4 linked regions of the Homo sapiens genome follow. The protein of the gene in region 3 purifies or fractionates together with the protein of the main gene of each other region. This does not show direct contact. Each region holds a gene or a part of one and is shown on either strand. Other genes may lie near its edges. The genes, in order: AKAP11, PALM2AKAP2, PRKACA and AKAP5.

Region 1 (7,023 bases), on a different chromosome or scaffold from region 3:
ATAGGCATACTTTTCTTTTTCCCTCGTGCTGCTTCTTAAAAATTTGTGATTCCTACATATTTCCTTTTGTGGCAGTAAAGTGTCTCCTCATAGAGGAGGAAATAACATTTTTAGGTCTTTCTGAATAATGCATATCAGGTGATTATGGGCAAAAACTGCTGTATATTTTGATTGTGGCCTTGCTTGAAGGAAATAATTTGGACAGAAGGAACAAGAGAGGATATATTCTTGAGAACATACATAGCTGGAAAGAGAAGTATTCCAAGATATTTCTTTAATGTTCTTCTTCTCCTTTAAGAGTTACTGATAAAACCATGTTTATAAAGGAAAGTACTCTACAAAGGGTCAAAGACTTTAATAATTCTTTAGCTGGGTAAAATATTTGTGTATAAAGGGCAAACAAGAAGAAGAAATAAAAGCGATTTTCTTTTCCTTTAATCTTCATTAAAATTATCAGTTAAAGTCTAATACAATACCTTGGAGAGGAAAGATAGAAAAACGGATTATATTGTACAGAGTTTTTAAAAAAAAGTTTTTAAGATGTACATTCTCTAGCAAAAAATTTTGTATGAAAAAAATTTCATAAAGTTAAGTTAAGACCTATATGTTGACATTGCTAAAAACTATTAAATGCTTAATTGTCATGGATGTGTTAGGTACCCTGTACAATTTTTTTATAGCTTGATATCAGTACATTTTAAAGGCTACGGGGATAGCCAGTATTTAATAATTTTAGTATATTTTATTTTTGAATTTTTGAAAAATTATCTGTGAATAATAAACTGTATATGTTAACTATTATGAACCAGGAAATTCACTAGCCAGTAGACCTTAAAATTTTTGGATAGGGTCCACATTATAGGAACCTTAACAAAAGTGTTACTCTACAGTGTTACTTATTGTTATTATTTTAAATCAGGATTTAGCTGCAGTTTCTTTGGAACTTCCAGATATTCTGAATTCACTCCACTTCTGCAGTCTAAATGAAAATGAAATTATTTGTATGAAGAATATAAATAAACCATTAGATATAAGCAGTGATCCTCTAAATCAGGTAACTTTTGTAGATAATTTCTAATGAGATTTTTAGGGCAAATTTTACTATATTTGATAAAGATGATTAAACTTTTAAATGCTTGGATGACATTTGTTTTTTTTAAATGGTATCTCAAGGAAATATGATTCATAAGAAATATAACTCATGAAGCATTGACATCCCTGAAGGATATAATAATTTTGGTCATATCTTATAAATTATATTTTTTAACTGTGAAGTTCCGTAGATGGTATGCAAGTACATGTTAATTTTTTCTGAAAATTTATTATTTCTGGATTTCTTGAACTACTTTTACCTTTGTATAAGCTACAGTGACTTTTCCCTATTATGGCCAATTTCAAATTTATATAAATGTTACGCTATATGTTTTAGAGAATGTACTTCAGTTCATTTTCTGGTTTAAAAAAATTCCATGTAAAGTGGACATCTGATGTGTTCTTTATAAATAAAAATGTTACCATTTCTTACAGGTGGTTAGTTTTATAATATTCAGCATTTAGTTCTTTACCAAGTATGATTTTGTTGATAATGCATCAGAGAAAATGCTTTGCATTCTAAGAGATAAGACATATACAATTGAACCAGAAAATTTAAAATTTGGATTATTTTAGTTTTAAAAAAACTGCTATGTTGTTCTTTATAAGGTCTGCCAATAAAACTAGAACTGCTTGCTTCATTTCCTTAATTATGTTCTTTATTCGTATTTGCTTTATTTGCTAGGATATAAGAGGTGATAAGCTATTATATTTGATTTCTAGTTTTTTGAATAAATAATTTCATCAGTATTTACTTGAAAAAAGTAGTATGAGGGGGAAAATCTGGTTACTTGTATTTTTAAAGCTATAAACATTGTAAGTTGTAATGCTAGGGAAATTTAAGTAAAAGGAGTAGACTTTTAACAATTGTGATAGGAAGGAAGATGGCATCATACTTGAAACTACGGGAAAATGGGATTAAAAATAAAAGAAAATAGAACTTGGTTGCTGCCCCCAAACAATTTATAATAGTTAGTGAGATAGGTGAATGATTAAGGAAAATCATAGGGCTGTACAGTAATACAGGAAAACATAATTGCTCAAAGGAATGGATAGTAAGTTTCATAACATTTCAGGAGACTGGGTAGAATTTGAATACCTGGATAAAAGAAGATGGGAGAAAAAAGGACTGGAAAGTGAAAAATGTAGAGAAAGAATTAAGAAGTAAACATTACAAAACCAAGGAGCTTTTCAGGATGCATGAATTTCTTGTTTGTTTTTTTCTCTGAGATTGTCTTATATCTAGGCTTTACTTCATGTTGTTTTGTATTTGAAATTAAAATTGTTTTTATTATCTTTTATCTTTCCCAAGAGTCATCCTTCTGGAATGCTTTGTGTCATGAGAGTGTCACCTACATCACCAAGACTTAGGATTGATTTTATCTTTAGTCTCCTAAGTAAATATGCTACTGGTATAAGGTACACCTTGGACACATTCTTGCATCAGAAGCACCAACTTGAGACCACTGATGAAGATGATGATGATACTAACCAGTCTGTGTCATCCATAGAGGATGACTTTGTCACTGCTTTTGAGCACTTAGAAGAGGAAGAGACTTCAAAGCCATACAATGATGGTTTGTTTTTCATTAGACTTTTTCCTAAAATAGGGAATTAAAATTTTTCAGTTTTGAAAATTTTAAGGCAGGCTTGTTCAGTTGAAATTTATGTTGAGATTTGATTCAATTTAAACCTTTTAACTTTTTTTCTGATTACCTAAGGAAATTCCTTATGATTTTTAAGTTCATTGTAATCTGGTTTTCAGTTTTGCTTATTTCAGGTTTTCATATTTAGTTGGTGCTGTTCACGCACTGGTTACATCATTAAGTGTCTGGAACATTCCTAGGTTCCAATTTTGGAAGAGTTAGCTGGCAGAGTCTCCACGGTAATTTTTCTAACATGCGTGACAGCATGCAAAACATCCCATAGACCAGGTATCCCTAGACATAGAGTAAACTGAAATTATTTTATAAACAGTATATTTACTTTCAAATGTTACTTGGGTGAATCTTTCTGTTAAACATAGTTTAGAAGATACACATAAATATTATATGTTTAAAGTCAGTTTATTCCATGGATTTAAGTTAATTTCCAAAAAGTTTTGTTCAAAAATAATTTCACCATTTCATTCTTTTCCTATAGGAATGAACATTACTGTGCTAAGGAGCCAGTGTGATGCTGCTTCCCAGACGGTTACTGGTCATCATTTAGAAACCCATGATTTAAAGATTCTCATTAGCTCTGGACAGCAGAAGTCATTGGCTAAACCCTCAACTTCCTCAGTGAATGTCCTGGGACATAAAGAACTACCTTCTGTGAAAACTTCAGTCACAACATCAATTTCAGAGCCTTGGACCCAAAGGAGTTTCTATAGGTCATCTAATGCTTCAGATAAAGATAGTGATTTACAGAAAACATTTTTTTCGTCTTCTCCTGCCTACTCATCTGAATCAGAATGTTCAAGTCCAAGTCCTGTTATTTTCTTGGATGAAGAGGGATATCAAAAAAGCTTAAAAGCAAAACTTGAGCTGCCTAAAATTCCTGTGATGAAAGATGATATAGAGGATTCAGACTCAGAAGTAAGTGAATTTTTTGATAGTTTTGATCAGTTTGATGAACTAGAACAAACTTTAGAGACTTGCCTGTTTAACAAAGATCCCGTCATAGGGAAGTCATCGCAGAGGAAAGGGCACAAACATGGAAAGTCATGTATGAATCCTCAAAAATTCAAGTTTGATCGTCCAGCTCTCCCAGCTAATGTTAGAAAGCCAACTCCTCGTAAACCAGAATCTCCATATGGTAACCTGTGTGATGCTCCGGATTCTCCTCGCCCAGTGAAGGCATCAAGGGAAGATAGTGGTTTATTTAGTCCTATTCGATCCTCTGCTTTTAGTCCTCTTGGAGGCTGTACTCCAGCTGAATGTTTTTGCCAAACAGATATTGGTGGAGATAGGATTCATGAAAATCATGATTCTGTTTATTACACCTATGAAGACTATGCAAAAAGCATTTCATGTGAAGTACTAGGCTCAGTTCTTCGTACCCACCATACTAATACCCTATCAAATATTAACAGTATTAAACATGGAGAAAATAAAACTGTAACTTTTAAGCATGGAAACCTTGATCAAAAAAATAAATCTAAAAATAAATCCTTAATGATTAAAGATAGCATTCAAAAATTTGCAGCAGATCTTGTGGAAAAAAGTTTTGGCAGTGCATTTAAAGACTTACAGAAAGGAGTCTCTTCATGTACCAATGCTTTGTACCACTTAGCCATCAAATTGACATCATCTGTTTTGCAGATGGCATTTGATGAGCTGAGAAGGCAGCGTGCATTTTCACTAAAAGAACGTGCCATTAGTGGCCTGGCTAACTTTTTGGTGAGTGAAGCTTTATCAAATGCCTTAAAAGATTTACAGTATGTAAAGAAGCAGATATTCACAAACACAGTTGCTAGGTTTGCTGCAGATCTTGCTGAAGAGCTTGTTTTTGAAGGCATCATGGAGGTGTGTCAGTTTTCATATCCTCAAACGCCTGCATCTCCACAGTGTGGGTCGTTTGACTTTGAAGACAAAGTAGTGAAGTTGTATGCAAAAGATTTGTCTGAATCTGTAATACAGGAAGCATTCATTGAGCTATCACAAGTTGATGTGACCTTTACAACAAAGGCAGCAGTTAGTGTCTCTACGGATAATATCAAGTATGTGAGTGCAGAAAGTGTAGTGCCATCGACACAGGCTGTCACGTTTTCCCCTTCTTTTCACAATCAAGCAATTATGGTGACAAAACCAGTGCAGGAATATAAAAAGGAATACACAGTGCAGCAGGCCTTGTTTTGTACTTCTGGAATTGTTACTTCTATACCGGTGCCCTTGGCAGGAAGTGCCCTTCTCCCATATCATATTTCATCTACTGCATGTCAGGCCAAGGCTCATCTGTCATCTGATGATAGTAATTCAAATGGTGATTCTGCCCAAGTGCATATTGCCACAAAAAACAGAGAAGAAAAAGCAGCTTGTCTCAGAAATATTTGTTTACCTTCAGAACACAATCCAGGTAATCAGAATGATTTTAAACCAACTAATGACGATATTGAAATGCAGAGTTCCTCAAAATTACCAAATGATCCTGCAATTATTAGCAACTTTTCTGCAGCAGTGGTGCATACGATAGTAAATGAAACTTTAGAGTCAATGACATCATTGGAAGTTACAAAAATGGTTGATGAACGTACAGATTATTTAACTAAATCTTTAAAGGAGAAAACCCCTCCATTTTCCCACTGTGATCAGGCAGTGCTGCAATGCAGTGAAGCTAGTAGCAATAAGGACATGTTTGCTGACCGGTTATCTAAATCTATTATTAAACATTCCATAGATAAGAGCAAATCAGTGATCCCAAATATAGATAAAAATGCAGTATACAAGGAAAGCTTGCCTGTTTCTGGAGAAGAATCACAGTTGACACCAGAAAAGTCTCCCAAATTTCCTGACTCTCAGAATCAGTTAACTCACTGCTCACTTTCAGCTGCAAAGGATTGTGTTCCAGAATGTAAAGTTTCTATGGTTCATGGATCCTCCCTAGAGACACTGCCATCTTGTCCAGCTGTGACAGGTCAGAAATCTGACTTGAAGGAATCTGCTAAGGATCAACCACTGAAAAAGCATAACTTGAATAGTACATCACTTGAGGCCTTGTCTTTTGGACAGGAAAACCCCTTTCCTCATTCACATACTTTCTCATCTACAGCACTTACCTGTGTAGATGGTTTGCATGTGGAAGATAAACAGAAAGTCAGAGACAGAAATGTAATACCTGATACTCCTCCATCAACTCCTCTAGTACCATCCCGGGCTAGTTCTGAATGGGATATCAAGAAGTTAACTAAAAAGCTCAAGGGAGAATTAGCCAAAGAGTTTGCACCTGCTACACCACCTTCTACTCCACACAACTCATCTGTTGGTAGTTTGTCTGAGAATGAACAAAATACTATAGAAAAAGAAGAGTTCATGTTGAAACTCATGCGATCTCTTTCTGAAGAAGTTGAGAGTAGTGAAAGTGGAGAGCTCCCAGAAGTGGATGTGAAGTCGGAGCACTCAGGGAAGAAGGTTCAGTTTGCAGAAGCATTAGCTACACACATCCTTTCTCTTGCAACTGAAATGGCAGCTTCCCATTTAGATAACAAAATAATTCAAGAACCCAAGGTTAAAAACCCTTGCTTAAATGTGCAAAGTCAAAGAAGTGTGTCGCCTACTTTTTTAAACCCCTCAGACGAAAATTTGAAAACATTATGCAATTTTGCGGGTGATCTGGCAGCAGAAGTCATTACAGAAGCTGAGAAAATAGCAAAAGTCCGAAATTGTATGCTTTTCAAGCAAAAGAAGAACAGTTGTTATGCTGATGGTGACGAAGATTATAAAGTAGAAGAGAAGTTGGATATAGAGGCTGTAGTGCACCCAAGAGAAGTGGATCCGTTTATTCTTTCATTACCACCAAGTTCTTGTATGTCAGGTCTGATGTATAAGTATCCCAGCTGTGAAAGTGTGACAGATGAATATGCAGGTCACCTTATTCAGATACTAAAACAGGAAGGTGGTAATAGTGAGTTGATAATGGATCAGTATGCCAATAGGCTTGCCTACCGATCTGTTAAATCAGGATTACAGGAAGCAGCTAAGACAACCAAAGTGCAGTGCAACTCAAGAATGTTCCCTGTGCCAAGTTCACAAGTGAAAACAAACAAGGAACTGTTAATGTTTTCAAACAAAGAGCACCACCAAGAAGCAGACAAAAAGAGACAAAGTAAAAGAAATGAAGGTTACTTTTGTAAAAATCAAACTTGTGAAAGGACCCTGGATCCATATAGAAATGAGGTCTCCCAACTGTATAGTTTTTCAACCTCTCTGGTTCACAGCATAACAAAAGATG
Region 2 (7,953 bases), on a different chromosome or scaffold from region 3:
GACAGCTACCTGCCAGGTGCTTCACCTCCATCCTAACTAAACCTTACAACCAGCCCAGGAGGTAGAACTCATGAACCCATTCTACAGATGAAGGAGCTGAGACCCAGACTAAAGACTGCCCAAGGCCCTGCAGACTGGAATCCCAGTCGATTCTCTGCCTCTGAGAGAGAAGCCCAAGTAAGTGAAGATGTGAGGACCTATTGTCTTCTTCCCTCACATCTCCAGAGAGACTTCAGGAGTGCTAGGTTCTGGGGGCAGGCTTGTGATCTCCTCAGGGTCCCCTGAGAACTCCAGGAAAGTGATGAGAGAGTCAGGGTTTGCAGAATTCAGAAGAGTAGGCACTAGACCAAAGCATAGCATAAAACCATTTACCGATGTGGCCATAAGTCCCCCCACCCAACTCCCTCTGTCTCTTAATTGGCTCTCTCTCTCACACACACATACACACACACACACACACACACACACACACACAAACAAACACACGCTGTTAGCAAATCTGTCCTGACAACATCATACAGTCATCCCTCAGTATCCTCAGAGAATTGGTTTCAGGACCCCCTTGGATACCAAAATCAAAGGATGCTCAAGTCCCTATAAAATAGCATGGTATTTGCATATAACCTACTCACATCCTCCCACATACATTAATCATTTTCAGATTATTTATAATACCTAATACACTGTAAATGCGACGTAAACAGTTGATTATACTGTATTATTTAGGGAATGGTGACAAGAAAAAGTCTGTACATGTTCAGTACAGACTCAGCTATCTATTATTTTTTCCAATAGTTTCAATCCAAGATTGACTGAAGGCGTGGATATGGAACCCATGAATAGGGAGGGCAGACTGTATTAGGTGCACATTCATGAGAATAATCAACAGCTCCCCAGATACACAGGACAAACTCAATTCTTCAATAACTGAAGAGGCACAAGTGAGTATTTGTGTGTATTCTTATATGCTCAAGAGAATTCCCAAAGATTTGCCTAGATCTTTCTTGGAAAATCGACTTGGCCTCTGCTGGGATTACTCAACCGCACTTGGAAAAGGGTACCCCAGTGTTAGCAGCTACTGGCTCCATGTTTGGAAAGCAAGTCCTTTCATGGAGTTCAGCTGTTCCTCAGGCATCCAGTAAAGCTGGTTGTGCAAAGGCAGAAAATGTGACAACTGTTGGAAGCCTTCAGCAGCAGCCAATGGGAACAGCCACTGCATCAACAGTTAAAGCAGCCTATTATCCAGTTCACACAAAACACCCACCAGCTACATGGCACCATTAACTCAATATCACCATTCTTATCAAGTTCATGACACACTGGCCATGCTGCCTTGCCACCAACTTTAGAAACCACAAATAACTTCACAAACCATCAAAATACACATGCACAGGGGGAAAGAGAAAGAAGAAAAAAACAACCTTTCTGAGTTCAGAGCACCACGTTCAAAGATTACCTAATAGGCAAACCATGGCATTTCAATATTGCCAGCAAACATCTCTCTCACTTCAGTGGTGAAGTCTCCAAGACATTTCAGATTTGAGGCGTTTGAGAAAGAGGGTCTCAGAGCCTTGGAGACCATGTCAAATGCTTCTAAAAAAGGAAGGGTCTGTGTGCATTTTCCCAATGAAGAATCTGTCCAAAAAGGTTTTGGAAAACGCTTTAATATACTTTGGTTCCAAAACATTACACACTATTTCTCCAACAAATTTATATGTGTTTCCAGAGAACTTCCGAACTGAAAAACACAAATGTATTTAGGTGGAAGAATGTCTGGAGATTCTTTTATGCCAATATGTTAACGGACCTTCTTTTTTAATTGTTACTATTTCATACGGCAGCAGTAATCATTCCCTCATCCTCGAAGGAAATATATAATCCAGCTGTGGTGGCTCCAGTAAAAATACCACATCTGTGGATCATTGGCAACACTGTGTTAAGATTGCTCAAATCTAGGCAGTCTCAGAGAGTTCTTTTTTAAACCCAAGATGCACATGGGTACACTTTTCTGAAAGTGCCTACGAACTTTGCCAAAACTGACTACTCCTTTGTAGGCTGAAAATAGGTTTTCAGATACTCCACACCATAAGAAGGAGGCTCTCATGGAATATTATAACCAGGACCCAGTTGTATGAAGTCCCCAGACCTCCAGGGTGGTGGCTTGTGCCAGTGCCCTTGTCAATATCAAACAGAGAAGGGAAAACTAACATTCCCGGTTTCTGGGAGGAGGTTCTACCGCGTGGCTGGCTGAGTCGCTGACTCCTGGTTTTCCACTTAACAGGAGGACAGCTTCCGCAGAGAGGATGGCAGCCACCGTTCAGGTCACCCTTCTCTTGGTTCTCCAGGCTATGAAGCCAACGTATGCCTGAGCATTCGGTCATAATATTCCTGGAGTCGTCCCCCCACCCCAAGCCTCTGTTTAGTCCTTCCCCAAAGCCCAGCAGCAAGCATCTTTTTTTAAGCCAATCTTCCACATTCAAATCCTCAGTCCAAAGCGCGCCCTTGGGGGTCTCCATCTATAGACATAGAAAAGAAAAGGCAGCCTAGCTGAGCCCTGACAGAGTTTTAGCCCCTGGAACATATGACCTGCGGCTACTGTGCTGGCATGCCGCTTGCCCCGAAACCCTCGGGGGCCCCCTTCCACCCCAGACAATAGAGCAAGAAAATAAAATGAAAGTGGACTTACTGCTATGGCTTGCAGCCTTTCCTTGTGCAATTCCGCCTCTGCCATCCTGGAGAAGGGCACACAGGCAGGGGAAAGAGGAAAGAAAAAACACACGCTGTAGTCACCCAAGGAAACTGATGGGCACCCCGGGGGGCTTTGCTAGAACCCGGGAGAACGCCCAGGGACGGCTGGGGATCCGCTCCAGGGGCGGCGGGCAGAGCTGTGCGCACGGCGGGCTCGCCCGGGCTCAGCCTCTGGCCCCCGCCCTCCCGGCCGCCTGGCTGCGCCCCAGCGCCGCCGCTCACTGCATCTCCCGGTCGCCGCCGCCGCCGGCCGCGCCAGCCGAGGACGTGGGACGCCGGCAGCCGCCGGGAGGGCGCGCTAGCCCGGCGCTAGTTCTCCGCCCTGACGTCTCGGTGCCTCGCTCCGCCCCTGGAGTGTGATGGACCCGAGGCCGCGGTCCAAGGCGGCTCCGAGCGATCGCCGCCGCGGGTCTCCAAGGCGCAGACGGAGGGCGCGCGAGCCAGTGGGCACCTGGGGCGCGGGCGCACGGCGAGCCGCTGGGGCGCACGGCTGGCGTGGCGCGCCCGCGTGGACACGCGCTTGCTGGGGCGGAGGCAGAGCGCAGTGGCGCCTCCACCGGGCAGATGCCAGTGGAGAGGGGCGTCTGACCGAATGTGGGACCCGAGCACGTGCTGTTACGTGGGGGCTGGGGCCACCGAGTGTTCAGGGCACCTTCTGGCTCAAGCCAGACGCTTGAGCTCCACGTGGGGACATTTACAATTTGGGAAGGGCTGCCTTGCCCAAGTGGCCCACATGCTTAAGATGACCAAGTTCTCAATATCAAGTCGGCCGAGGGTAGGGTATATCTCCAGAGAGGCCACCCTTCTGGTGAGGCGATATGTGGCCTTAAAAGAAGCCGAGAGTTTTTAGTCCTGGGTGCTAGACTAGATTTCACAATGTGTTAGCTGTGAAATCTCAGGCAACTCGCTTAATCACTCTGAACCTCAGTTTCCTCATCTGAAAAAATGGAGGATCACATAGGTGTCATTAGAGACGAATGAGAGACAGTATGTAAAGGTGCTTTGTAAAGGGCATCACAGACATCTGCTCTTATTATCCTGTGACATTCTGGATTGAAATCCTTTCAGGGTCTTCTGTTCATTGCATCTGAAAGGAAAAGTAGGATCTACTCACTAAAATATTTCACCTATTCTTTACTAAAACAGGATACCATGTGGTACTAATGTGAGTCTTTTGTGACAGGTCCTGGACTGGATGTAAGAAGTGGATCAGGCCCAGTCCAAAAGGAGATCAATGCCAAAAGCAAAAAAAAATGCCTCTTCACATTGAGGCAGGACCTGCTAGAATTCCCAACATTCATATGCAAACGTTTCTTCATCAAATGAAATAAACACTGAAATAACTAATATGGCCTCTTTAGAGCCATAGGATTTAAAGGCATGTTAAAAGATATACACATCAGGCCAGATGCGGTGGCTCACACCTGTAATCCCAGCACTTTGGGAGGCCAAGGCGGGTGGATCACCTAAGGTCAGGAGTTCGAGACCAGCCTGGCCAACATGGTGAAACCCCTTCTCTACTAAAAATACAAAAAATTAGCCGGGCGTGGTGGCAGGCACCTGTAATCCCAGCTACTTGGGAAGCCGAGGCAGGAGAATCACTGGAACCTGGGAGGCAGAGGTTGCAGTGAGCCGAGATCACATCATTGCACTCCAGCCTGGGCAACAAGAGTGAAACTCTGTCTCAAAAAAAAAAAAAAAAATGCACATCAAATTTTCCCAGATCACCTGTTTCCTGAATAAATGCTTCCATTTCAACTAAATTGCCCTTTCAATTTTCACAGAGGTTCACCTGTCACTGATGAACAATTACTCCTCTGACCAAAGATGGAAGCACTCACCAAAATCGTTTACTGATGGATTGTTTTCCCATCTTTTTCATAACAAGTGTAGGTGGAGCTGATTGTTTAATAAATCCAAGCCAGTGCCAGATTCTACATCCCACTCCAATATATCAGAAACTTCTACTTTCTGGCTAAGCCCATCCTTTTCTTCAAATGCATCCTTTTTTCTTCATTTCCAGCACAAGCCCCAGCAGGACAAGTTATTTAAAGGGGTTTGCTCACAAATAAACAAAGCTGTTATTGCTTCAGCAGAGTGATTGTAGAGAATACTAAGATGAGGAAAATGAGACCAGAGAGGTTGAAAGACTCAGCTACAGTTATAGAGCTGGGATTTAAACTCAGATCACACTCACCAGAGCCCATGCTCTTAACCATTAAGCACCAGGCTTGGCCAATGATATGGAGATAGAAGCAGGCCCCAGGAATAAACAATTGAACCAGAAATGGTCCTTCTACTCCCAGCTATACAGATATTTAAAAGGTATGATTGAGCACAACAGTGTGAATGTACTTACTGTCATCAAACCATATGCTTAAAAGTGGTTGAAATGGTAAATTTTAAGTTTTGTATTTTTAACCGCAATAAATTTTTAAAAGGAGTGATGGAATGGGGAGATGGAGAAGGAAAAGGGCCTGGGCACCCTTTGGAAGTGATCAGTTGGAAATATCTGAACTCTGAATAGAAGAATCGGGGTTGGGGACACACATCCAAGTGTCATCTACTTTGCGGTTACAGCTAAAGAAATGAGAACAGCCAGGATGAGAAAACAGAGCAAGAAGAGGAGAGAGCCCAGCAAAGAAGACTGATAAAGTATCATCCGAGAAGTAGAAGGAAAAATTCAAAGGGATTTGCACCAAAAGCCACAAAGAAGGAAAGAGGTTTTCAACAGGGTCATATGCTTCTGAAAGGTCATGGGGGATGCAGATGAAGAAGAGACCATTGGAGGGCTGTCAGTAAGCCATGAGTGACTTGTGTCCAGAAGATGAGCTTGGAAGCACTTACAAGAGGTGAGGAATGACTGCTACCAAGTGAATGTTGAAAATAAAACAAACAAAAATGGGGATGAGCGAGAGATCAGAGAAGCAACCATGAGTACAAACTGCTTCTTTCAGCTCTTCAGATGTGAAAGATGAAGGTGGAGAACAGGAACATAGCCCATGGGAAGCAGGGTCTAGTGGAAAGGGTTTTTAGGTCAGGCAAGACTTGGATGTTTGGGGGTCAAAGCAAATTAGACAACAGGGAAATTAGGCCAAAGATACAGTCAAAAAGGAAGGTGAATATTAGTCAAAGTCTCTAATTAGTCAAGAGGACATTCAGATGAGCATCACATTAGCCAGTTAGCCTTGGGAAGAAGGAATAACGAAGTAGGGAAGGAGGAAGAAATGGATAAAGACAAGAAGAAAGTTTGAGTTCAACTCTCAGGAGAGAGGTTAAGTGAATTTGCATCAGATGGACTGGTTTTCCCAATTGAACAAAGAGTCATTGATTAAGACTGATGGCGTAGGGTTGGGGCTTCAGAAAAATAGAAATCGTTTGTAAAGAAACTGTGAAAGATGAGAAAGACTAAAACATGGTTCCTAATCAGAAATCTGCATCAGAATCTCCTGAAGACCTGTACAGAATTAAATTTCTACAGGGTGATGTGGGAGTTAGGGATGGGTTTAGAACCTTTGTACTAATTGAATTTACTAGGAATAGACTAAAGACTCATGACCAATAGTGTGTACTTCCTAAGTGATTTTTAACTGCCCTGAGACCCACAATAAAAAAAGCTTGTGTTTATTCAGTGTTGCGGATTATCAAAGCAGGTAAGACAAAAAGCCAAAGAAGAGAGGAAATTCAAAATGCTTCTGGCCAGGTAGGAAGTGTAACAGACTTGTTCATATACACATTTTTTTTTCCTCTGGCTGGCCAATTTGTGAACTCCTTCCCATCTTTGGGGATTTCCCATATTAAAAGCCATAGTGAGAGGCAGAGCCACATCCTGTGGTAGAAGCTGGGAGGTATCAGACACTTGTTCCCCAGATCCCCCTGAAGCCATGGTATGGCAGGCAATCTCGGCTCAGTCAGGCATGTGTGCCTGCCAAGAATTTTGGAGACTGAGCATGTTAGAGAATTCCTTCAGGCTATTAGTTCACCTTTGGTTGTACCCATTGCCCAAGCTTCCTTCTTTGGACGTTCCATCTCTCCTGTGAGCTATCTAATACAATTTCATTTCATTCTTTTTCTGCTCCTATCAGCCAGAATCTATTTCTGTTGCTTGGGACCAAGAACCCTAGGTGAAACAGGAAGGCACATGAAATGACTGCCTGATGGTTGGCCAAGGAGCAGAGGGAAAATCTTTTTTCCTCTTCCAGCACTTCTTTCAACTTTCTAAATTTTAGTATTTTAAAATCTTTGAACCCATTACAAACACAGGCATTTAAAACCCAAACTATGCTATTTATTTAATAAACATATTGTATAATTATTTTATATTAGATGTTTGGCCATGGCCTGGTATTAAGAAAAAAAATCGTAGTCTAGTGCCACAATGATATTGGTGACTATTTGCCCTCCAAACATTTAAAATCTGGATATATACATCACAATGATGCATAATGTATGTAACAAATCACTAGTTCTTGCTGGGACATTAAATTGTGTTGCATAAACACCATCTGTACGGTTTAGTGGTTTTTATGATAGATGCTTCATTGCAAAGCATTATACGAAAAGGATACAGAATGCTAGATATGCAAAATAGATGTTTTGTTAATAAAAATTTCAGAATCTATTTTAGAACATGAGTCCTTTGAGAATCACAAACGATCATAGCCAATTCCTTTGTGGGGAAAACAAGAGCTCTGTATACCAAAAGGGAAATGACTTGCCAAGGCCCGTTGTGTGAGTAAAAGTCAGTCTTGTTGAGCAAGAGCTATGAGTGTGACATTTCCCAGCAACCTGAAGCTTCCCTTGGACAAAAGTAATTTTGAAAGGAATGCCAGGATCCCCTCAAATGTTTATATTTGTGTTAGTTCTTTTTTGCCTGGGATCTTTTGAAAATAAATGGTCATTTAAAACATATGTGATAGCTGCACAGAATCAAAAGAAGGAGAACATTGCCTGTGGTCCTCTTGGCTCCTGTGGTTGTTAGCTCTTTGGGAAAGTTGATGGGATTTCAAGTATATGCTATTTTTCTCCATGGGATCCAAATGATAGATTCATTTAGGGAGTCCCCATGGAGCAAGAAGATAGAAAGAAGTCAGAAAACAGCACCATTGTGAAAAATAAACTAGGCTGAATGTTGCTTAAGGTATATAGTGGCTAAGGTCTTTACATAGCAGATTGAAAATGAGCAATTGGAAATCTGGCTAGAAA
Region 3 (7,023 bases):
TCCTCTGCATTCCCAGGGGGCTTGGTCGTGCACTGCCACCTGTGGACACCCTGACAGCCTGATGTGATGGGGGGTGGCCCGCTTACCTGAACCTTCCGATCCGCCGTAGGTGTGAGAACATCTCCCCGCCGGGCACGTACTCCATGACCATGTATAAGTTTGAGTTGTCCTGTGGGAAGCAGTGGCTGGTCAAGGGCCCACCCCTGAGACTTGGACCCGATCTGAAGGCCTTGGGGGCCTCCCCGGCTGGTGTTCAAACATTAAATGACAACAGCGATCCTGGCTCCCTGTAGGAATCATGTTCTACAGGGGCGACCCTTATCCTGCTGTTAATGGGTGAAAGTGAGGGCTGGCTCAGAGGTATGTCAGGACCTGGTTAGCCTGCCTTGGCTGGAGAGAGAACTCTGTAGTACCTTGCTCTGGGAGCTTGAGTAAGGCTCTGAGGCCACAGTTTTGTCATCTGTAAAATGGGATCATGATAGGCTGCAGAATTAGTGGGGCCCAGAATAAAAAAGATGGCCCCTGGTTAAAAAATTATTACAGAGGGTCGGGTGTGGTGGCTCATGCCTGTATAATCCCAGTACTTTGGGAGGCCAAGGTGGGTGGATCACTTGAGCCTAGGAGTTTGAGACCAGCCTGGGCAACATAGTGAGACCCCGTCTCTGCAAAAATACAAAAATTAGCTGGGCATCATGGCGTGCACCTGTAGTCTCATACTCAGGAGACTGAGGTGGGAGGATTGCTTGAGCCTGGGAGGCAAAGGTTGTGAGCTGTAATTGCGCCACTGCACTCCAGCCTGGGCAACAGGGTAAGACCTTATCTTAAACAAAACAAAACAAAATGGCCGGGCACGGCTCACACCTGCAATCCCAGCACTTTGGGAGGTCGAGGCAGGCAGATCACCTGAGGTCAGGAGTTCAAGACCAGCCTGACCAACATGGGGAAACCCTGTCTCTACTAAAAAATACAAAATTAGCCAGATGTGATGGCACATGCCTGTAATCCCAGCTACTCGGGAGGCTGAGGCAGAAGAATTGCTTGAACCCAGGAGTCAGAGGTTGTGGTGAGCTGAGATCGCATCATTGCACTCCAGCCTGGGCAACAACAGCCAAACTCTGTCTCAATAAAAAAAATAAAAATTAGGCTTGGCACAGTGGCTCATGCCTGTAATCCCAGCACTTTGGGAGGCCAAGGCAGGCAGATCACTTGAGGTCAGGAGTTCAAGACCAGCCTGAGCAACATGGCAAAATCCTGTCTCTACTAAAAATACAAACATAAGCTGGGCATGGTGGTGGGCACCTGTAATCCCCGCTACTCAGGAGGCTGAGGCAGGAGAATTGCTTGAACCCAGGAGGCAGAGGTTGTAGTGAGCCAAGATTGCGCCACTGCTCTCCAGCCTGAGCAACAGAGTGAGACTCTGTCTCAACAAAAAAAAATTATTACGGATCTCAAGACAGCAGCAGCAGCAAAGCGTTAAACCAGGTGTGGGGTCCCTCGGAGAACAGGCCCTTGTGCTTCTCTGGGTCAAACGTCCATGAAGCTGGCCCTGAGTGGCCTTTCCTGTTTCTCATGACCACAGCTTTGGATGGCACCCAAAACGGCTCCCAAAGGGCGCTCAAGACGTGCCTGGAACTGTCATGACAACCCCACCAGGCTGGAACTGGTATGATCCCCATTTTACCATGAGAAAGCTGAGGCTTGGGGAGATAAGTCTCTTGCCCGGGGCCACACATCAAGAAGTACTGAACTGGGAAATGAACCCCGGCTGCCTGGGGCAGAGTTTGTGCTCCTGGGTCAGGCTCTTACCATAAACCAGGTGCTGCTTTTGAGGGATGTTACTGAGGTTGGGTGACTCACCAAGGGTATCGAACTACAAACTGGCTGGACCAGGAACTGAACTTGGGTCTACCAGAGTCCCAGCCTGACTCCTGTCCCCTGATCTCCCTCCTCCAGGGATCTTGTTCTTCCACAAAAGAGAGCAGCCACTGATTGTCCTCAGCTCCGACCCCAGCCCTGGGGGCCAGAAGGCTGGGACCCAATGCAGTGACCCCCCGCCCTTGGCCACTGGGACCCCACCTTGAAGGAGAACTCGAGTTTGACGAGGAACGGAAAGTTGACAGCTTGCAGGATGCGCTTTTCATTCAGGGTGTGTTCGATCTGTTTCAGTTTCACCACCTGGGAAGGGAAGGAGGGGAGGGCAGAAAGGAGGGGGAGGTGAGAGGGGCCTCATTTCCCCTAATGCCTGGAACTAGGGATGCCGGAGCCAGGCCGGTTCCTTCAGCCAGAATCATTTGTGTGCCTGTGGCCTGTCGGGCCCTTAGCTGATGCTGAGGACACAGCATCAGGGAGGCTAGGGGCTGCTTGTCCTTGCACGGCACTAAGTCCAGGGCAAAGAATACATGGGTTACCCCCACAGAGGTCAGAGCCGTGGTGGAGGGTATCTTGGGGTTGTGGAGAAGCAGCCCCCAAGAAGCCCATGTAAAGTACCTGGCGTGGTCTGGGGAAGGGGGAATCAGACAGCGCTTTCTGGAGGAAGGGGCAGCTGAACTGAAATTGAAAAGACAGGCAGGAGAAGCCCAAGAGGTGGGGGGTTTAGGACCTGCCTTACCCTTGTCTAGAACACTCCACACAGCAACCTGAACCTCAGGCTAACAGCTCCTCAGCCATCAGCTGTCCCCTAATAGCAGATGCCATGAGCAGGCACCTGGCACCCAGTCTCTCACTGAATCAGGATAGAAGCCCTAGAGGCCCATGCTGGGAGTACGCCAGTTTGGAAGACCAGACACAGAGGGGAGGTGACTTGTCCAAGGTCACACAGCTGGCTGATGTCAGGCTGGTGTGTAACATGTGGCCAGCCTGGTCCCTCAGTCAGCTGTCAACTGCTTTGCTCACATAGCTGTGTCCTCAGAGTCTATACCTGCCCTACCCAGTTCAGTCCCCATTAGCCACAGGGGGATGCTGGGCCCTTGAAATATGGCTGGTCGGATGGGGAGCCAAATTCAAAAATTTTAAGTATCTAAAATATAAATTAAAAAACTGACACCAGCTGGGCATGGTGGCTCACGCCCGTAATCCCAGCACTTTGGGAGGCCCAGGCAGGTAAATCGCTTGAGCCCAGGAGTTTGAGACTAGCCTGGGCAATGTAGCGAGACCCCATCTCTACAAACAACAACAAGGACAACAAAAGCAATTAGCTGGGCATGGCACGACTATGGTCCCAGCAGCTCCAGAGGCTGAGGTGGGAGGATCATTTGAGCCCAACTGCACTTCAGCCTGGGCAACAGAGCAAGACCCTGTCTCAAAAACAAAACAACCAGGCCGGGTACGGTGGCTCACGCCTGTAATCCCAGCACTTTGAGAGGCCGAGGCAGGTGGATCACGAGGTCAGGAGATCGAGACCATCCTGGCTAACATGGTGAAACCCCGTCTCTACTAAAAACACAAAAAATTAGCCGGGTGTGGTGGCGGGCGCCTGTAGTCCCTGCTACTCGGGAGGCTGAGGCAGGAGAATGGCATGAACCCGGGAGGTGGAGCTGGCAGTGAGCTGAGATCACACCACTGCAGTCCAGCCTGGGTGGCAGAGCGAGACTCCGTCTCAAAAAAAAAAAAAAAAAAACAACAACCAGCCAGGCCAAAATGGTGAAACCCTGTCTCTACTAAAAATATTTAAAAACTGGCCAGGTGTGGTGGCTCACGCCTGTAATCCCAGCACTTTGGGAGGCCGAGGCCGGTGGATTACAAGGTCAGGAGATGGAGACCATCCTGGCTAACACGGTGAAACCCCATCTCTACTAAAAATACAAAAAATTAGCCAGGCGTGGTGGTGGGCGCCTGTAGTCCCAGCTACTCAGGAGGCTGAGGCAGAAGAATGGCGTGAACCCGGGAGGCAGAGGTTGCAGTGAGCCAAGATCGTGCCACTGCACTCCAGCCTGAGCGACAGAGCGAGACTCCATCTCAAAAAAAAAAAAAAAAAAAATTAAAAAATTAGCTGGGCGTGGTAGCCGGCGCCTGTAATTCCAGCTACTCAGGAGGCTGGAGCACAAGAATCGCTTGAAACCCGGAGGCAGAGGTTGTAGTGAGCTGAGATCATGCCATTGCACTCCAGCCTGGGCAACAAGAGCGAAACTCCATCTCAAAAACAAAACAAAACAAAACAAAACAAAAATTAAACTCTTGATGCAGGTACTGGTGACTTTCAGGCATGGTTGGAACAACTTGGGCATGTGAATCTGCTTTTTCAACTTCCCTGCTTTTTCTTATCTTTCCAGGAAAAATTTACCATCAGAGTTGAGAACTGTTGTAAGCATACAATAGACACTGGATTTTAAAGATACTTCAGTACAGAAAAAAAGGAAATATTTCCGAAGTCATGGAGGACTGGGAAAAAAACAAAAGGAATGTAAAATGTTTCATTAATGATATTTTCACATTGATAATATATGGAAAGGGTAATACTGTAGATATACTGGCTTAATTAAAACATATCATTAGGCCAGGTGTGGTGGCTCACATCTGTAATCCCAGCACTTTGGAAGGCTGAGGCGGGCGGATTACCTGAGGTCAGGAGTTCGAGACCAACCTGACCAACATGGTGAAACCCCAAGTCTACTAAAAATACAAAAGTTAGCTGGGCGTGGTGGTGGCACCCATAATCCCAGCTACTTGGGAAGCTGAGGCAGGAGAATCACTTGAACCTGGGAGGTGGAGGTTGCAGTGAGCTGAGATCACGCCACTGCAGTCCAGCCTGGGCGACAAGAGTGAGACTCTGTCTCAAAAAAAAAAAAACATAAAAAAAAGCCCCAAACATGTCATTAAAATGAATTTCATGAATGACACCTGTTTCTTTCATTTTCTCTTTTAATTACAAACTTTGGGTGTTTTTTTAGAGATGGGGTCTGGCTGTGTTGTCGAGGCTGGAGTTGAACTCCTGGGTTCAAGTGATCCTCCCACCTCAGCCTGTCTAGTAGCTGGGACTACAGGCGTGCGCCACCGTGCTTGGCTGTTTTTACTGTTTATGATGGAGCAAACAGAAAATTTAAAATTGCTTCTGTGGCTCAGGTTACATTTCTGCTAGTTACATTGCTGCTTTATAGCAGTGCCTGGTATAAAGTCCGATCACAAAAATATTTACGGGAAGAAAGTGCACATAAACACCACTTCCCCCAAGAGTGCTCTTGTTCTCCTCCTGTTGGGCTGGTGTCTGACCCTGTGTCACAGTGCCTGGCTTTGAATCCATGGCCGGCCTGGAGAGGGAGCTTTGGGAAGGCGGCACAGGGCCCTTCTGACCCCTGGGGCTGGCACATTATGGGGGCTCGGGGAATAGTGGGTGAGCCTGGCATGGTGGCTCATGCCTGTAATCCCTGTGCTTTGGGAGGCTGAAGTAGGAGATCACTTGAGGCCAGGAGTTCAAGACCAGCCTGGGCAACACAGCAAGACCCCCTGTCTAAAACAAAAAACAAACAAACAACAAAAAAAAATTAGCCAGGCATGGTAGTGTGCGCTTGTAGTCCCAGCTACTCAGGAGGATCTCTTGAGCTCAGGAGTTTGAGGCTACAGTGAGCTATGATCACGTCACTGCACTTTCCTGCTTGGGCAACAGAGCAGGATCCTGTCCCCCACAAAAAAACCAAGCGGCCAGGCGCGGTGGCTCACGCCTGTAATCCCAGCACTTTGGGAGGCTGAGGCAGGTGTATCACCTGAGGTCAGGAATTCGAAACCATCCTGGCCAACATGGCGAAAACCCATCTCTACTAAAAATACAAAAATTAGCTGGGTGTGGTGGCAGGCGCCTGTAATCCCAGCTACTCGGGAGGCTGAGGCAGGAGAATCGCTTGAACTAGGGAGGTGGAGGTTGCAGTGAGCCGAGATCACGCCACTGTACTCCAGCCTGAGCGACAGAGCGAGACTCTGAATCAAAAAAAAGCAAGTGAGTGAACGGGTGGATAGGGCACTCTAAGGAGTGGGCACAGTCCAGGCAAAGGCCTGACAGGCAGGCCCTGAGCGAGGACAGGCCACCTCACCTTCTGTTTGTCGAGGATCTTCATGGCATAGTGGTTCCCGGTCTCCTTGTGTTTCACCAGCATCACCCGCCCGAAGGAGCCCGTGCCGAGGGTCTTGATTCGTTCAAACTGATCCAAGTGGGCTGTGTTCTGTGGGCAGAGGGGTCGGTAGGCTCAGGGCACGCCCTCCCCGCGGCCTGCTTGGCTAAGGTCTGGGGCATCCCCTCTGCCACCGGCAGAGGGGGCCCCGGGGAGCACGTGGGGTCAGCGGGGTGAGGACAGGGGGCGGAAAATCAAGATGGCAGAGGGCACATTCCTTAAGGCGGGTGGCAGGGGCCAGATCCGGCCCTGGCCTGGGGCCTGGAAGCTGCTGGCAGCTGTGCTGGGGGCAGGGGCGGGCCGTTGGGAGGGGTGGTGGGATGGGGGTGCCTGGCATTGGGCAGTCAGGTGTCTCCACACAGGAGCCCCCATGGGCACCTAGGGAGCAAATGGGGAGGGTCTGAAGCCTTCTATGGGGTTTCTGAAATTCTAGCTGTGTTGCTGGGACACAGCCAGGGGCTGGGGGTTAGCAGCTCACCCCTCCCTGGGCTCTGCACCCGGCAGCCTTACCTGAGCGGGACTTTCCCATTTTTTAAGAAAATCTTCTTTGGCTTTGGCTAAGAATTCTTTCACTGAAAGGGAGAGAGGGGAGAGTTATACAGAGACGCCCGTCTCACCGGGGTGGGTTCAGGTGATTTCTGGGGAGATACTTGGTGGAAAGTGGGGTGCAGTTCCAACCCAGAGCCTGACCTTTTTCTGGTGCCTCTGGGGCCTTGGCTGGGCCGTGGCCTGGGCCTCCCTTGCTACAGAGAGGTGGGATCCAGCTGCCACTCCATCCAAAGTGGGGTACAGAGAGTCTCAGGGGTCACTCGCAGGGGAACGGAGGGAGGTGCCCAGGCAGACCAGCCCACCCCCACTCGCCCCAGTTCTGACCGACATTCCATGGCCAGGGCCGACGCCAGCCGAGGTATTTATAGCCTTGGGA
Region 4 (7,325 bases), on a different chromosome or scaffold from region 3:
CTGCTGATGTTGGCAAAGCAGTATTTTTCCCAGTGACCTTGGTTTTATTATTTTTAATTCCCTAGGTCCATGTCAATGTTGTAATACAGTCAATTTTACAGTCCACAGAAATGATAGCGCTGCCTTGAGAGGCATATGGCAAAGGGGTCACAGTGCAGAGCCCCAGCTCTATGGCAGAGAGCCTCACCCACCTCCCTGCCTCCACATCCTCACCATGGAAATAGGAGCACTGTTGGTACCTACCTCGTGAGGGCGGTTCTGGAATTACTCAAACACATCATCTAAGATGCTTTGTACAGGGCCTGGCACATTGTAAGCACTTGTCAGTTCCTGTTGCACAGCATCCTCCAGGCCCTGTTTGCAGAGTTAATTGCTTCTGGTACTTTTTTTTTCCTTTTTTTTTTTTTTTTTTGGCAGGGGGGGTAGGGGGGTTGGGACAAGAGTCGTGCTCTTTTGCCCAGGCTGCAGTGTAGTGACGTGATCTCAGCTCACTGCAACCTCTGCCTCCCGGGTTCAAGCGATTCTCCCACCTCAGCCTCCCGAGTAGCTGGGATTACAGGTTCGCACCACCATGCCTGGCTAATTTTTTGTATTTTCAGTATAGATGGGGTTTTGCCATGTTGGCCAGGCTGGTCTCAAACTCCTGGCCTCAAGTGATCCTCCCACCTCGGCCTCCCAAAGTGCTGGGATTACAGGCGTGAGCCACTGTGCCCGACCGCTTTCTGGTACATTTCTTAATGTCCTGTGAAACTTCACCTGGAATGGGATTTGCTGGGAATTCATTTTGTAGACAAGGGAAGGATGCAGTCTTGTCAGATATGGTGACTTAAGGATCATCTTAAAGGATTTAGGTTTCCTAATATCGCCAACAGCCACATGGGTTTAAATCCTCAATACTGGTAGGGGCTGGGCATGGTAGCTCACACCTGTAATCCCACCACACTCAGCTGAGTTTTGAAGTTCTGTTTTTTGTAGAGATGGGGTCTCACTGTCTTGTCCAGGCTGCTGAGGCAGGAGGATCACTTGAGCCCAGGAGTTCAAGACTAACCTGGACAAGACAGACCCCATCTCTACAAAAAACAAAACCCCAAAACTCAGCTGAGTGTGTGGTGCACGCTTGTAGTCCTAGCTCCTTGGGAGTCTGATGTGAGAGGTTTGCTTGAGCCTAGGAGTTCGAGGCCGCAGTGAGCTATGACTGAGCCACCGCATTCCAGCCTGAGCAACAGAGCAAGACCCTGTGTCAAAATAAAAAAGACCTATAGAAGCATTAGTGCTTGGGGTAACTATTAGCATGTGCTGGCAGAGAAGGTCTAGTGCCTTTACCTTGGTGCTAAGAGTCCCTCCAGATTAGTGGCTTTCCCGTGCCCTTTCTCTTCTCTGGGCTGCTAATGCCTTCCTTCCCCTTATTAGTAATATTACTGATAAACAAATTGTACATTCTCTGATCTCACTTCAGAGGCTGTTTCTGTGCACTGAAGATGTACACACAGTCTTAATTCAAAAGAGATAGCATTTATGTGCTGCCACATTAAACAGATTGCAACAGTATTACTATTGAGTTTGTGTTGGCTCTGTGCAACCCTCATGGTGCCCAGGAACAGATGAAACCACCAGAGACTTGGAGCCTCAGGTTCATTCAATGGTGTCCCAGGGAACGGGGTTGGAGGGCTTATTCCCAGAAGGCCTCTGAAATGTAAGAGCTATTAACAAGGAGTTATAAGTCATTTTTGGTAGCTATAGGCCCAGGCAATGGGTAGAGATCAAGATGGGATAAATGGTAAGATCAGTAGAGTATTGCTCAGATAAATATGTAAGCTATTTTACTGGCACACTGTATCTAGTGATATTAACATGATAAGCTATAGGTAGGATAATTTCTCATCAGATTGCAGAAATACATTTATAGCCTATTTCCTGTTATATAATGAAAAGCTACTAATGGGGTAGTAGACAATGATATGGGTAATAGCTTAAACAGCCTTCGTTGTCACTTACCTGAATTCAGGAATGACAGGTTTCTTTCATGCATGAGGTACTGGATACATTAAACACACACACACACACACACACACACACACACATATGGCATTGAGTTCTAGTCATATCCTAAAGAAAAACTATGGTGCGCTATGTTATTTATAGTACTATACTCTGTGTGAGTGACTCTGTGTGTATGTGTGTTGGTGGAGGTCAGGGATGACTTGTTTGTAATATACCTTAAGGAAGTCTGTCCGAATTTGCCCTTCAAATACTAAATAAATTCATCTCTCACCTCAAACTGCCTTTCAGTTCCCTTTTACTAATTTTGTTTAAAAGAAAGGCAAGTGAAGGCCAGGCATGGGGGCTCACACCTGTAATCCTAGCACTGTAGGAGGTCAAGGCAGGAGGATCACTTGAGCTCAGGAGTTCAAGACCAGCCTGGGCAACATAGGGAGACGCCATCTCTACAAAAAAAAAAAAAAGAAGAAGAACCTGGGCATGTGGTCGCATACCTGTGGTCCCAGCTGCATGGGAGGCTGAGGTGGGAGGATTGCTTGAGCCAGGGATTGTACCACTGCACTCCAGCCTGAGCAAGACCCTGTCTCAAATAAAAATAAAAATAAGACAGCTATTTTACCCTGTCTTCACCTAAATAAGCTCATCTTATTTTTTGCCTGAAACTCTTGCAAACTCCCAGGTCTGCTAGTTTTGAGAAACCTTGGATCTCAATAAGGAATAGTTCTCAATTGCTTATAAGCATAATGGATTTCTTTTGGCTTAAAGTTCAAAACTGGCAACAAGCAGCGCTAGCAACCCATAGAGAGATACGCAGACCATTTCGATAGACGTGTTTGCTGAGTGAACAAGGCTGACTGAATTTTTTTTTTTTTTTGAGGCAGGGTCTCACTTTGTTGCCCAGGCTGGCGTGCAGTGGTGCAGTAGTGGCTCACAGCAGCCTTGACCTTCTGGGCCCAAGTGATCCTCCCTTCTCAGCCTCCTGAGCTCCTGAGTAACTGGGACCATACGTGCACCACCATGCCCAGCTAATTTTTTAGATTTTTTTGTCTCCCTATGTTGCCCAGGCTGGTCTCAAACTCTTGGACTCAAGCCATCCTCCTGCCTTGGCCTCCCAAAGTGCTGGGATTACAGGTGTGAGCTACTGCGCCCATCCCTGAATTCTTAATTACAACTAAACTAGATGCTTATGGATTTTCCTGTTTTACAACTCTTGCCTCTTTTATCTGTAATTTTAAGATCTTGACAGCTTATATTTGGCTTTGCTTTTGTGTCTCAAGAGTTCTTTCCTTGATAAGCCTCTGTGGAAACTACAGAATCTTACAAATATAAAACATTTCCGGAAAAAATACAAAAATGGACACCTGACATTTACACTCCCTAAGGTCGTGATCCTGTTGAAGAAAGGAGATGAACGCGGCTGCTTTTCAGTAGTTCTTCACTTCACCTTACCAGGTTCTTCATCTGGATGCTATGCTATGGGGGCCAGAGGAGGAGGCTGGGATTGTGATGGATCCTACTAGATTTTACAGCTGGAGCTCCCAGGAATGCCCTCATAGGGAATGTCCTGAAGGGAATCATGGGTAACTTGTAAGCTACCTCAACTTATTTTTGGAACTATGTAAGGTATAAGATGGATGGAGCTGGGTTCCTGTGCCTTTCTCACCTTGTCCGCATAGAGATGCAGCTGCTCCTGCAGGCCAAAGTTCTGCACCAATCACCTCCACCTGCTTCCCACTGGGAGACAAAGGTTTGAAAGCCTGTTTGGCGATGAACCACGATGATCTGACACTCAAGCCACTCCTGAGAAAGTCGGGTTTCTTTCTGTTTCCATTTATATATGTAATTTTCGCTTCAAACAAACATGACCTCGCTATTCTATGCACAGTTTTGAATCCTGCTTTTAAAATGCGATGTCTGCCTTGTCTTTAAATATTCTGAGGGGGAGGAGAGGAGATGTGTAATGCGACTGTCTATAATTTGAAACCGGACCTCACTATTTAGCGTCTCAGAAAACGCGGGGTTCATTGCCCTGGTCCCCCCCGCCTTCCCCCGCCCCCCGAACCTTCCGGCTGGCTCTCTTGCGGTCCCCGCCTCGGCGCTGATGTGGTCTGGCAGTGGAGATTGGCGCCCGGGCGGAGCACGATGGGCTTCCCCGCGGCAGGCAGGCAGGCTGCTGCTGCAGGTGGGTCCCGGCGCCCGCGCCGCCCCGCGCCTCCGGCGGTCGCCCCGCCCCTGCCCGCCCGCTCCGCTCCGCTCGCATTGGCGCTGCCTGCTGTCTGTCCCCGCGCGGTGGGGAGGGGGCGCACCCGGCGGCGGGCTCTGCAGAGGGCGCCTTGCTCCGGGTGCGACCGCGGCTCCCTGGAGGCCTGGGCGGCGGGCCCCGCGAGCGCGCCGCCACCTCGGGAGCAGTGTTGGCCAAGGACCCCGACGCCCTACGTAAGTAAAGGCAGGGCGGGGAGCCTGCGGGGGAGGAGGGTCGGGGGCAATGTCCGGTCCGCGGACCGCGGAGTGGGCAAGAGGTGCCCACTGGATACGGGGTATCCGAGCCCTCTGAGGTGCTGGGAGTAAGAACGCGGGAGGTCGCTTGTCCGCTGGAATCCGCGGCCAGGGCGACCCTCATCAGGTCTGCCCACCTATCCCCTTCGCGTTACAGCTTGTCTTAGAAGCATGGGTTGCCGGTGGCTTTTTTCCTTCTTTATCCCTCTTTGAGAAATGTGATTTTGGGTTTCTGGCCATTACATTATAATTCTGCAGACAGCCTGAAGCTGGGTTATCTGTTCCACGCCCCCGGCATTTTCCTTTTTGAGTACTTTATCCTGCGCTCTGTCTCCTGCCATAAGGGGCGTCAAGCCAGAATTCGAGATTCCTTCCTCCAGGAGGAAGCTTCGTGGTCCGTATCTGGTGCTGGGAAAGATGCATTGCTTTCCTCGGGTACTGGCTGCTCAAGGGAAAAAGGAAAGGGGGTGTTTTCTGTGACATGAGACTTGCAATTCCATCAGGAAATGAGCACAGGGACTTTAAGATTTCCTGAGGCGATAAAGCTACCCTTGCTGGTTAAGAGCGAATCATTTGCAGTCTGACATTCTGCAAAGTTTTATTGTCTACAGACTGCATTATTTTCCCTCGTTAGTTAAGTTTCTGTTTGGGTATTCGTTTTATTTCTAGTATGTGAGATACATTCAAGTGAGCTTCTCAAACGATTGTCTTTGCGCAATCCAGGTTAGTTTCCAATGACAGACTCCTAAACATCTCATTTCAATATTTCTATTATGTGGTAATACAGCCTCTGCTTAACAAAAATGCTCAGGTGCTGAAAACTCACAAGAGGTGAGAAGATTTAAACAGTTATCAGCTTAGGTTCTAGTGCTCACTGAAACATTGTGAGGAGAAACACTGTCAAATGTTCATATTTTAGTTCCGTCATTGTTCTAGAATGACTTTATCTTTCTGTTAGAGGCACACAGTATGAAACACCCAACCTAAGATAATATTTACTTAGATCATAAACTGATTTTCAGGGTTCCAGTTCCTTCTACAGTTCATAAAATTATGGGTTACCCAAATGAAACTTCAGTGAAGGATTTACATAAAAACAATATAAAGAATGAGTCCCTTTGCTTATTTTAGGGCATCCACCCACTAAAATTCATAGGATCTTTGTTGGATAATCACCTCCCATTTCCATTCTTTGGTGCCATCATACCATTCTAAGGATTAAATTTTCAATACACCTTTATATTATCTAAGTTTGCCAATTGCATAGTTTGCCAACTTATTTTTGGCTTTTAAATTAGTTCCTGAACCAAAAAAATAAAATATAAAGAATTTCAAAAGCTTGGTTTTCAAATGACAAGAACTCAGTCTACTCGTGGTTCAATTATGAGTTGATAAGTGCCTTATGGTTAAATGACCATTAATCAATTTTTTAATTTTTTTACTAATGAAACACTGCAGATTAGTATCCCCAAACAATTCATTTTCTGACGAAACTCTTAAAGCCCAGTTTCAGAACATAAGCTTTAAGCAACAAGCAATCTTGTGTTAATCTGAGCTCTGTTACAGCTCTGCCGTAATCTCAGCCAAATTGCTTCATCTGTACGTGGTGATACCACCATCTTTGTAATATTGTGGTGAGGATTAGAGATGTATGTAAAAGTGCATGCACTGCCTAATACCCAAGAATTGCTCAATAAATGTCAGCTATTACTACTCTTACTGACTTCCAACTATGTGCAGATTATGGTGGAAACATGTGATACAGCAGATACAGTACTTAAATGAAAATGTCAAAATTGTACAACTAATTTAAGAGTGGGAAATGACAGTAATGCTAAATTTTCCTAAGAATATGTATGAAAAATAGCACTTCCTTGATGGAACATACATTTTTAGAACAGAAACCTTATGTTATAATGGTAAAACTAGAGAGTCAAAGTCTCTAGTTCTAACTCTGGCTATGACCTTATCTAGTTGCATGGCTTTTGACAAGACAACTGCTCCCCTCTGGAGTTCAGTTTTGTCATCTGGCTGGATTTGAGTAATCTCAAATAATCTCTAAAGTCCTTTGCAGCTTTAAAATTATCTATTGAGTGTGATAAAGATTACATCAGCTTGCTTTTCATCCTGCACTTCATTTTTGGTTCTTGTTGTTTGCTTAACTTGCACTTTAGAGTCATAAGCAATTCACACAGACAACACAACTAAAGAACTGATAATATCAGACTTGCAGGGTAATCCAAAATGAAGTTTCAACAAGGAGGATAAAACAAAATAGAATCACACTGAACTCTTTAATAGGGCCAAAGTAAACCCCAATGTTTATTCTCCAGTCATTTCATTAAGTTATTATATGGAAAATATGCCTGGTAGAATCTTATACATTCACTGAAATAGTCTCCACAGAAAATAATAGGCTCATAGTGAAATAAAATACCACTTTCTTTTCTCTCATCAGGTTGATCTTTAAATAAAGCAAAAATTTATCCAAAGAAGGGCTTTCATCAAGAAATTAAAGAGAGAAATTACAAGCCATAGAGAAACTGGGCATTTCTATACTAGAGAAACCACCTAAAACAACTGTATGGAGTAAGATGAAAGGTATGAATATGCCTGGAAGAAATTTTACCTAGTGTGACATTTTTGCTCATCTTTTTGTCACAAAAGGCTGCTAAGGAAGAGAGAATACAGTTTTCTAGAGAATAAGAGTGCAGTGTAAAAATGGAAACCACAATTTCAGAAATTCATGTAGAAAACAAGGATGAGAAGAGATCAGCAGAAGGTAGTCCTGGGGCTGAAAGGCAGAAGGAAAAGGCATCCATGCTTTGCTT

Evidence for each region.
Region 1: the proteins of PRKACA (region 3) and AKAP11 purify together in Homo sapiens (affinity purification with mass spectrometry; 5 studies listed by BioGRID and IntAct, with this or other methods). This does not show direct contact.
Region 2: the proteins of PRKACA (region 3) and PALM2AKAP2 purify together in Homo sapiens (affinity purification with mass spectrometry; 5 studies listed by BioGRID and IntAct, with this or other methods). This does not show direct contact.
Region 4: the proteins of PRKACA (region 3) and AKAP5 purify together in Homo sapiens (affinity purification with mass spectrometry; 6 studies listed by BioGRID and IntAct, with this or other methods). This does not show direct contact.

What each region holds. Positions count from the first base shown.
Region 1 is NC_000013.11:42,296,129-42,303,151, forward strand, and holds part of AKAP11 (A-kinase anchor protein 11), read left to right. Parts: intron 1-919; coding exon 920-1,054; intron 1,055-2,404; coding exon 2,405-2,669; intron 2,670-3,234; coding exon 3,235-7,023. UniProt on the Homo sapiens protein: Binds to type II regulatory subunits of protein kinase A and anchors/targets them.
Region 2 is NC_000009.12:109,775,267-109,783,219, reverse strand, and holds the start of PALM2AKAP2 (PALM2-AKAP2 protein isoform 3 (PALM2-AKAP2)), read right to left. Parts: upstream 3,023-7,953; 5' UTR 2,733-3,022; coding exon of another isoform or gene 2,732-2,732; coding exon 2,687-2,731; intron 1-2,686. UniProt on the Homo sapiens protein: Binds to regulatory subunit (RII) of protein kinase A. May be involved in establishing polarity in signaling systems or in integrating PKA-RII isoforms with downstream effectors to capture, amplify and focus diffuse, trans-cellular signals carried by cAMP.
Region 3 is NC_000019.10:14,100,740-14,107,762, forward strand, and holds part of PRKACA (cAMP-dependent protein kinase catalytic subunit alpha), read right to left. Parts: coding exon of another isoform or gene 6,972-7,023; intron 6,671-6,971; coding exon 6,609-6,670; intron 6,150-6,608; coding exon 6,021-6,149; intron 2,176-6,020; coding exon 2,077-2,175; intron 170-2,076; coding exon 87-169; intron 1-86.
Region 4 is NC_000014.9:64,461,180-64,468,504, forward strand, and holds the start of AKAP5 (A-kinase anchor protein 5), read left to right. Parts: upstream 1-4,319; 5' UTR 4,320-4,434; intron 4,435-6,952; 5' UTR 6,953-7,215; coding exon 7,216-7,325. UniProt on the Homo sapiens protein: Multivalent scaffold protein that anchors the cAMP-dependent protein kinase/PKA to cytoskeletal and/or organelle-associated proteins, targeting the signal carried by cAMP to specific intracellular effectors.